Linked DNA regions of Homo sapiens. The protein of the gene in region 2 interacts with the protein of the main gene of each other region in a pairwise test. Each region holds a gene or a part of one and is shown on either strand. Other genes may lie near its edges.

Region 1 (3,827 bases), on a different chromosome or scaffold from region 2:
TGCAAGCTGGAGGCCAAGGCGGACAGATCATTTGAGCCCCGCAGTTCGAGACCAGCCTGGGCAACATAAGGAGATACCCGTCTCCATAATAAAATAAAAAATTAGACATGGTGGCACAAAACAAATGGTATTGAAACACCTGAATTAGCAAATGCAAAGAAATGAATTAGACACAGAACTGCACCTTTTACAAAACTACTTCCTAATGAATCGTTTACTTATATGGAAAATGCAAAACTCACAATTTCACACTTGTCAAAACCAAGACGACCTTGATTTGGCAATAAGATTTCACACACAACACAAAAAGCATGATCTGTGAATGAGAAAATCAATAAATTGGACTTCATTCAAAACAAAAATGTTTTGGAAAAGACTGTTAACAGAATAAAAAGACAGGCGGCAGACTGGGACAAAATATTTGCAGAACAGCTATCTGATCAAGAACTGGTACCCAAAAGGTATGAAGAACTCCTAAAATTCTATAAGAAAAAAACCAACCAATCAAAAAATAAGCAAAACGCTGGGTGCGGTGGCTCATGCCTTAATCCCAGCACTTTGGGAGGCAGAGACGGGTGGATCACCGAGGTCAGGAGTTTGAGACCAGCCTGACTAACATGGTGAAACCCCGTCTCTAGTAAAAATACAAAAATTAGCCGGGCCTGGTGGCATGAGCCTGTAATCCCAGTTACTCAGGAGGCTGAGGCAGGAGAATCACTGGAACCCGGGAGACAGAGGTTGCAGTGAGCCAAGATTACGCCACTGCCCTCCAGCCTGGGTGACAGAGCCAGACTCAGTCTCAAAAAAAAAAAAAAGCCCAATCTTTCCAAGTATACCTCCCGCTAAAGAATGTAATTATGGCAAACAAACATATGACAGGATGCTCTACATTACATGTTATTAAAGAGCAAATGAAAACAGCCCGGGCGCAGTGGCTCATGCCTGTAATCCAGCTCTTTGGGAAGCTGAGGCAGGTTGATCACCTGAGGTCAAAAGTTTGAGACCAGCCTGGCCAACACAGTGAAACTCTGTCTCTACTAATAATACAAACAGTGGCCATGTGTGGCAGCATACACCTGTAATCCCAGCTATTCGGGAGTCTGAGTCAGGAGAATCGCTTAAACCCGGGAGGCAGAGGCTGCAGTGAGCTGAGATCGCACCATTGTACTCCGGTCCGGGCAACAAGATTTGAAACTCTGTCTCCAAAAAAAAAAAAAAAAGGAAAAAAAATTAAAAAAGGAAAACAACAATGAAGCACCAGCAAATACCTGGTGGAGTAGCTAAAATCCAAAACACTGACACTTCCAAATGCTGGAGACAGTGAACTCTCCTTCACTAGGGATGTGAATGGAAAATTCTACAGCCAATTTGGAAGACAGTCTGCGGAGCTCTGAAGAAAATAGGCATGGTCTTACTGATTCAGTAGTCTCATTCCTACATATTGACTCAAATGAACTAAAAACTGATGTCCACACGAAAGTCCTCCCACAAACGTTTTTAGCAGCCTTACTCATAACTGCCAAAAACTAGAATCAAACAAGGTGAGTCTTAAAAAAAAAAAATAGATAAGGTCTCACACGGTATCTACCAGGCTGTTCTCTAACTTCTGGCCTTAAGCAATCTCATCTCAGTCTCCCATGTGCTGGGAACTCAGGGATGAGGCGTGACACCAGGCTCAAGATGAGCCTTTCAACAGGTGAATAAAGAAACAAACTATGGTAACATCCGTACAATAGAATGTTATTCAGTGATGAAAGAAAATGAGTGGCCCTGGCCGCGTGCGGTGGCTCACGCCTGTAATCCCAGCACTTTGGGAGGCCGAGCGGGTGGATCACCTGAGGTCAGGAGTTCGAGACCAGCCTCAACATGGAGAAACCCCGTCTCTACTAAAAATACAAAATCAGCCGGGCGTGATGGTGCATGCCTGTAATCCCAGCTACTCGGGAGGCAGAGGCAGGAGAATTGCTTGAACCTGGGAGGTGGAGGGTGCAGTGAGCCAAGATTGCACCAATGAACTCCAGCCTGGGCAAGAAGAGTGAAACTCTGTCTCAAAAAAAAAAAAAAAGAAAAGAAAAGAAAAGAAAAAAAAAAGAAAATCAGTGGCCGGACATGGTGGCTCACAAGTGGAATTCAGGCACTTTGGGAAGCTGAGGCGGGAGGATCACCTGAGCTGGGGAGTTTGAGACCCTGTCTCTCACAAAACAAAAATCTTTAGATAAAGAAAGAAAAATAAAAAATAAATGAGTTGTCAAGCAACAAAGGTATTTAGAGACCTTCAAAGCATATTTTTACATGAAAGAAGCAAGTCTGAAATGGCCACTTACAGTATCATTCCAAATATGTGATATTCTGGAAAATGCAAAACTCTAGAGGCAGGAACATCATCATTTGTTGCCAGGGATAAATAGGGGTGGCAAAAGAGGGAGGGGAGAGGTATGATTAGAAGGAGCACAGGGGATTTTGAGGGCAGTAAAACACTTCTCTATAAGACTGTGATGGTGGATACATGACACATAGTTGTCTTAAACCACAGAACACAAAGAGTGAAGCCTAATGTAAAAGATGGACTTTAGGTAATAATAACATTGGCTTCTTCAATTTCCATCATGTTCACATGTAATATATTCTTGCATCAGTTGCAGGATACACTACACAAAGTCAATATGGTTTCTTTGGTTTCAAACAGTTTTTATTTTTTATTTTTTATTATTTTTTATTTTTTTTATTTTTGGAAACAGGGTCTTGCTATGTTGCCTAGGCTGGCCTCCAACTCCCGAGTCCAAGCTGTCCTGCTGCTTTGGCCTACCTAAGTGGTAGGATTACAGGTATAAGGCTCAGCACCTGGCCAGTCAAGATGTTTAGAATAGGGGGAACTATGCTGGGTACGGTGGCTCACGCCTGTAATCCCAGCACTTTGGGAGGCTGAGGTGGGCGAATCACAAGGTCAGGAGTTTGAGACCAGCCTGGTCAATATGGTGAAACCCTCTCTCTACTAAAAAATACAGAAATTAGTTGGGTGTGGTGGTGTGCGCCTGTATTCCCAGCTACTCGGGAGGCTGAGGCAGAAGGATTGCTAGAACCCAGGAGGCGGAGGTTGCAGTGAGCCGAGATCATGCCACTGCACTCCAGCCTGGGCAACAGAGCAAGATTCTATCTCAAAAAAAAAAAAAAAAAAAGGGTGGTGGGGGGAACTATGAGCCTGGAATAAAAATGCTGGAACTCTGTGGATTATCTGCCCAATGTTTTGGGGAAACAACCACTGTTCTAAATAATAAAATCCATTAAATAAGAAAGTGAATTAACTATCATTCCATATAAGGTTCATAACTGAGTTAAAATAAAATCCGATATAAAATATCACATATCGGTTATCATTTGCATAAAAAACATGCAAAAATAAAACACACTGATGAGGATGCATACCCAGGTTGAGAAAGTATAAGGAAAAGTAAGGCAGTTATCTTATTCCCAATACTGGTTCCATCATTATTTGAATTCATTGTGCAATTCTTTTATGTATTTTGTGCATACATAATATTTTTAGTAAGTTTCTAGAATGCACACTCTATACAGAAATAAATCTCAGCGAATTTTAATTATCAGCAACAAGTTGCTGAATGTAATTTTTAAAAGACAGCATATCCTATTGAAACTAATTTTTTTCTTTTTTCTTTTCTTTTCTTTTTTTTTTTTTTTTTTTGAAACAGGGTATCATTCTGTTGCCCAGGCTGGAGTGTAGTGTTGCAATCATAGCTCACTGCAGCCTCGAACTCTTAGGCTCAACAGATCCTTCTACCTCAGCCTCCTGAGTAGCTGGGACGACAGGC
Region 2 (3,827 bases):
GGATCTGCTAATTTTAGCTTCAGTTATACACTAGTGTTTTCTAAAGGAAAAAAATGTGAACAAAATAATATATACCTTTATCAACATGAATTTCTGCATTGGCTCATACCACTGAAGTAAAACAATTCCAGACTGTAAAGCTCCACAGAGGTATTTATGTCCCGTGTAAGGGTTTCTGACTGGAAAGAAATAAACAAACAAAAAACCCAGACACACTCAAAATACTGAATACTTTCATTGTATCTGTTAACCAGGATGACAAGAGTGGGCAGAAAATAAAAAAAGACTGTGTCTTTTCTTTTGGCTTCATTGCCTTTTCCGTTTTACTTTCTTATCTCAATTTTAAATTATATATGTTTACTTCTAAACAACTTGCATATACTAGGTTGTTAAACATAAGAACTTTTGACAAGCACAATAACAACCTAACATGCAACCTAAAAAGGTGTTTTTTTCCCTTCCTCACTCCCTCCCGTCCTCCTTCTTTCTTTTTAAAGAGACAGGGTCTTGCTCTGTCATTCAGGCTAGAATGCAGTGGCACAGTAATAGCTAACTGCAGCCTCAATCTCCCAGGCTCAAGCAATCCTCCCACATCAGCCTCCTGAGTAGCAGAGACTATAGGTGTATGCCACCATGCCCAGCTAATTTTTCAATTTTTTTTTTTTTTAAGAGATGGGGTCTCACTATGTTTCCCAGGCTGGTCTTGAACTCCTGGACTCAACCGATCTTCCCATCTTGGCCTCCCCAAAAAGTTGTTTCTTAGTAAACTCAAAGAATGAGTTCTGACAAGGTCTAGGAGGCAACTAAAATGCACCTCGTTTTGGTATAGCAGTGTACAGATGTCTACTTAAGATGAAAATAATTCATCTTGTATGTATTAATTTATCATGATGTAATCTTGACTCAAATCTATAAAAATTCATATTGCTCTTTCCTTCTCCCAAATTTGATTTCCATTAATAATTATAATCATTGATTATAAGAATAGTTATTTGCATTAAACTCTAAAGTATTATTTATGAGTTTTTATCTTAGATTCCAAGTTTCTAGGCCTTTTGTGCATCACAGATCTTGGGAATCTGATAATAGATATTGACATGATTCTCCCTAGAAAAATAATATTTATAGCACATTTGTGGTTAAACATTTTTGTTTTACAGTATGGACTATGCTGTGAAACTATTATGTGGCACAAAGATCAATGTGTAAATTCATTGATCAAACAAAAGAATAAATAGGAAGTTAGGAACTTAAGATCTGAAGTCATTGAACCTGAATCTGATTCCTAAGCTCTGTTACTTACTAGTGACACAATCAGTATTATGGAGTTGTTTAAGGGTTAAATGAGATAATTATGTAGTAAAGAACTTAACCTCACCCAAAAAAGAGGTCTGGTCTCTGTCCTGCTTCTGGGAGGTAATTGCTAAGCCTTTGGAATGTCATGCTTGACAGGACTGTCTTTGTCTGGGGGACTCTGGTCACTGGATAATATAACAATAATGATTCAGGGTGGGGACTGGCTGCACTAGATAGTCTTAATGTGAGGGCTGGTCATGCCAGAAATACAAAAAATGTGATTTTGGGTGGGGGCTTTGGGTCATGTAACATCAGATGACCTTTAGTGGGGCTGCATACTGAGATCAGCAAGGTGGTCAATCAATCATGCCAGAAATACAAAAAATGTGATTTTGGGTGGGGGCTTTGGGTCATGTAACATCAGATGACCTTTAGTGGGGCTGCATACTGAGATCAGCAAGGTGGTCAATCAATCATGCCTTTGTGATGAAGCCCCAATAAAAACTCTGGACATCGAGGCTCGAATAAGCTTGTGGTTGGCAGTGGTTGGCAATGGTTGTGTGTTCTGCCACATACCAATGCTGGAAAAGTAACGCCATCCATTAACCATAGGGAGAGGACAACAGAAGCTCCATGTTTGGTATTTTTCCTGGACTCTGCCCTATGTACTTCTTCCCTTGGCTGATTTTAATCTATATTCTGTCCCTGTTCTAAACGGTAATGATTTTAATCTATATTCTTTCCCTGTTCTAAACGGTAATGATTTAAATCTATATTTTTTCCCTGTTCTAAATTGTAATCGTAACTATGAGTATAACTGCTTCCAGTTCCGTGATACCTTCTAGTGAATTTTTTTATTCTGGGGGTAGTTTTGGGAATCCCCTAACTTGCAATTGGTATCATAAGTGAGGGTGTTCTTGTGTGAACTGTTCCCTCTAACTGCATAGTTGGCTCAACTCCTGTAAACATGTTCATAAAACATGGGTGGTAACTGGTAGATGGCAAATATTAAATAAATGAAAGTTAGAATATTAGCAAAGATACAGCCTCAGGGACTATGGTTAAAAAACTCTAGGAACACTATGCTCTGAGAAAACGCTAAGGTTATTATCTCTAAGCATTTCTATGCCATGTCTGTCTATATTCTTGTACTTCAATGGCAGCTTAACTTCTTACTAAACACAAATTTTAAAAACCTACCCTCCTTCCTATTTGATTCCATACGACTCTTCAGATAATTATAAAGATGTTAAAAGTTCTAACCATTCAGTTTGAGAAATACCATTTACTCACCTATGCAACATTTGTGGCAGCCTTTTGTATCAGGAATCTTTGTTGTTAAAGCGAATTTTCTGAAAACGTAAGACGATATAAATGCACTCTACAGTAGTGGTTACAACACAATGATTTGTAAATCAGTTGCATCAGAATCAGACAGAAAGGAGCTTAAAAAACTGTCTTGGATCCTAACTCCACACTATCTCATCTTATAGGACTGAGGAAGGGCCTGACAGTCTGTATTATAAAACTTCCACAGTTGATTCTCATGGTCAAGTTCAGAAAACGTTCAGCTTTTCCAGATATAATACACTTTAGTTTAAACTACCTTTGAAAATTAAGACATAGTTTTTTACTGGGCAAGAAATACGGGCTATTTTTAAAATAAACACTAATTCCCCTCATTCAGTAGAATCAAAATGATATTTTGTACCTTGGTAGTATTCGGTCTGGAAACCTGTGAGTTTGAATATGGGCAGCTAATCCTGGTTTTTTGGCATGTTCAAACAAAGCTATAAGATTGTGAGAGTAGAGCTGAAAGGTTTTTCCTATAAAAGAAAAACATGTTACCTTTTTGAGAATCATTTACAGCAGAGAAATACAATTTTCGAGAAAAAGAAAACGTAATTACCTTCTAAAACGAGAGTCCAGTAATGTTCAAAAAGCCAAGCAAAATAGAAAAACACACACAAAAAAACCCTCAGTTAATACTATTTTGAAAGACAATAGATAAAATGTTTTTAAATTAACAGATAATTTTAATTCAGAATATATAAATTAGGTACTAATAGGTGATCTGGGCAGACTAAACCTTAATGATGCCAGCACACAAAAAGAAATTGTTGTACAAAATCTTATGTTATGGACTGAGTTACAATGATGTACATGTGATTATTTTAATACAAGATGGAAAATTCTATAAAGCTATATTATTATTTCTCTGGGACAGACCTATTTATCAATAACTTAACAAATTACCTTGGATTAAAAATCATTGTGAATGAAGTCTTAAATATAACAGATGGAAATACTTAAAAAAGTAAAACCAACCAATATTATAAGCCATGATACAAGGATAACAGGGCTACAATTCCATATAATAAAAAATATGGCTGTATTAAGTAAGAGGGATGGATATGGTAAACATCATCTGATTTCTCACTATATATGGTATGATAATATAACAATACAAAACAATATTTATCTTTTTATTATTAGAAAACATACATATATACACACACATATACACAGTT

The links.
Region 1: the proteins of MAP4K5 (region 2) and ZNF440 interact in a two-hybrid assay, tested with the Homo sapiens proteins (one large-scale study listed by BioGRID and IntAct).

Annotation. Positions count from the first base shown.
Region 1 is NC_000019.10:11,824,056-11,827,882, reverse strand, and holds part of ZNF440 (zinc finger protein 440), read right to left. Parts: intron 317-3,827; exon of another isoform or gene 1-316. UniProt on the Homo sapiens protein: May be involved in transcriptional regulation.
Region 2 is NC_000014.9:50,434,887-50,438,713, forward strand, and holds part of MAP4K5 (mitogen-activated protein kinase kinase kinase kinase 5), read right to left. Parts: intron 3,209-3,827; coding exon 3,206-3,208; intron 3,123-3,205; coding exon 3,008-3,122; intron 2,649-3,007; coding exon 2,590-2,648; intron 180-2,589; coding exon 76-179; intron 1-75. UniProt on the Homo sapiens protein: May play a role in the response to environmental stress. Appears to act upstream of the JUN N-terminal pathway.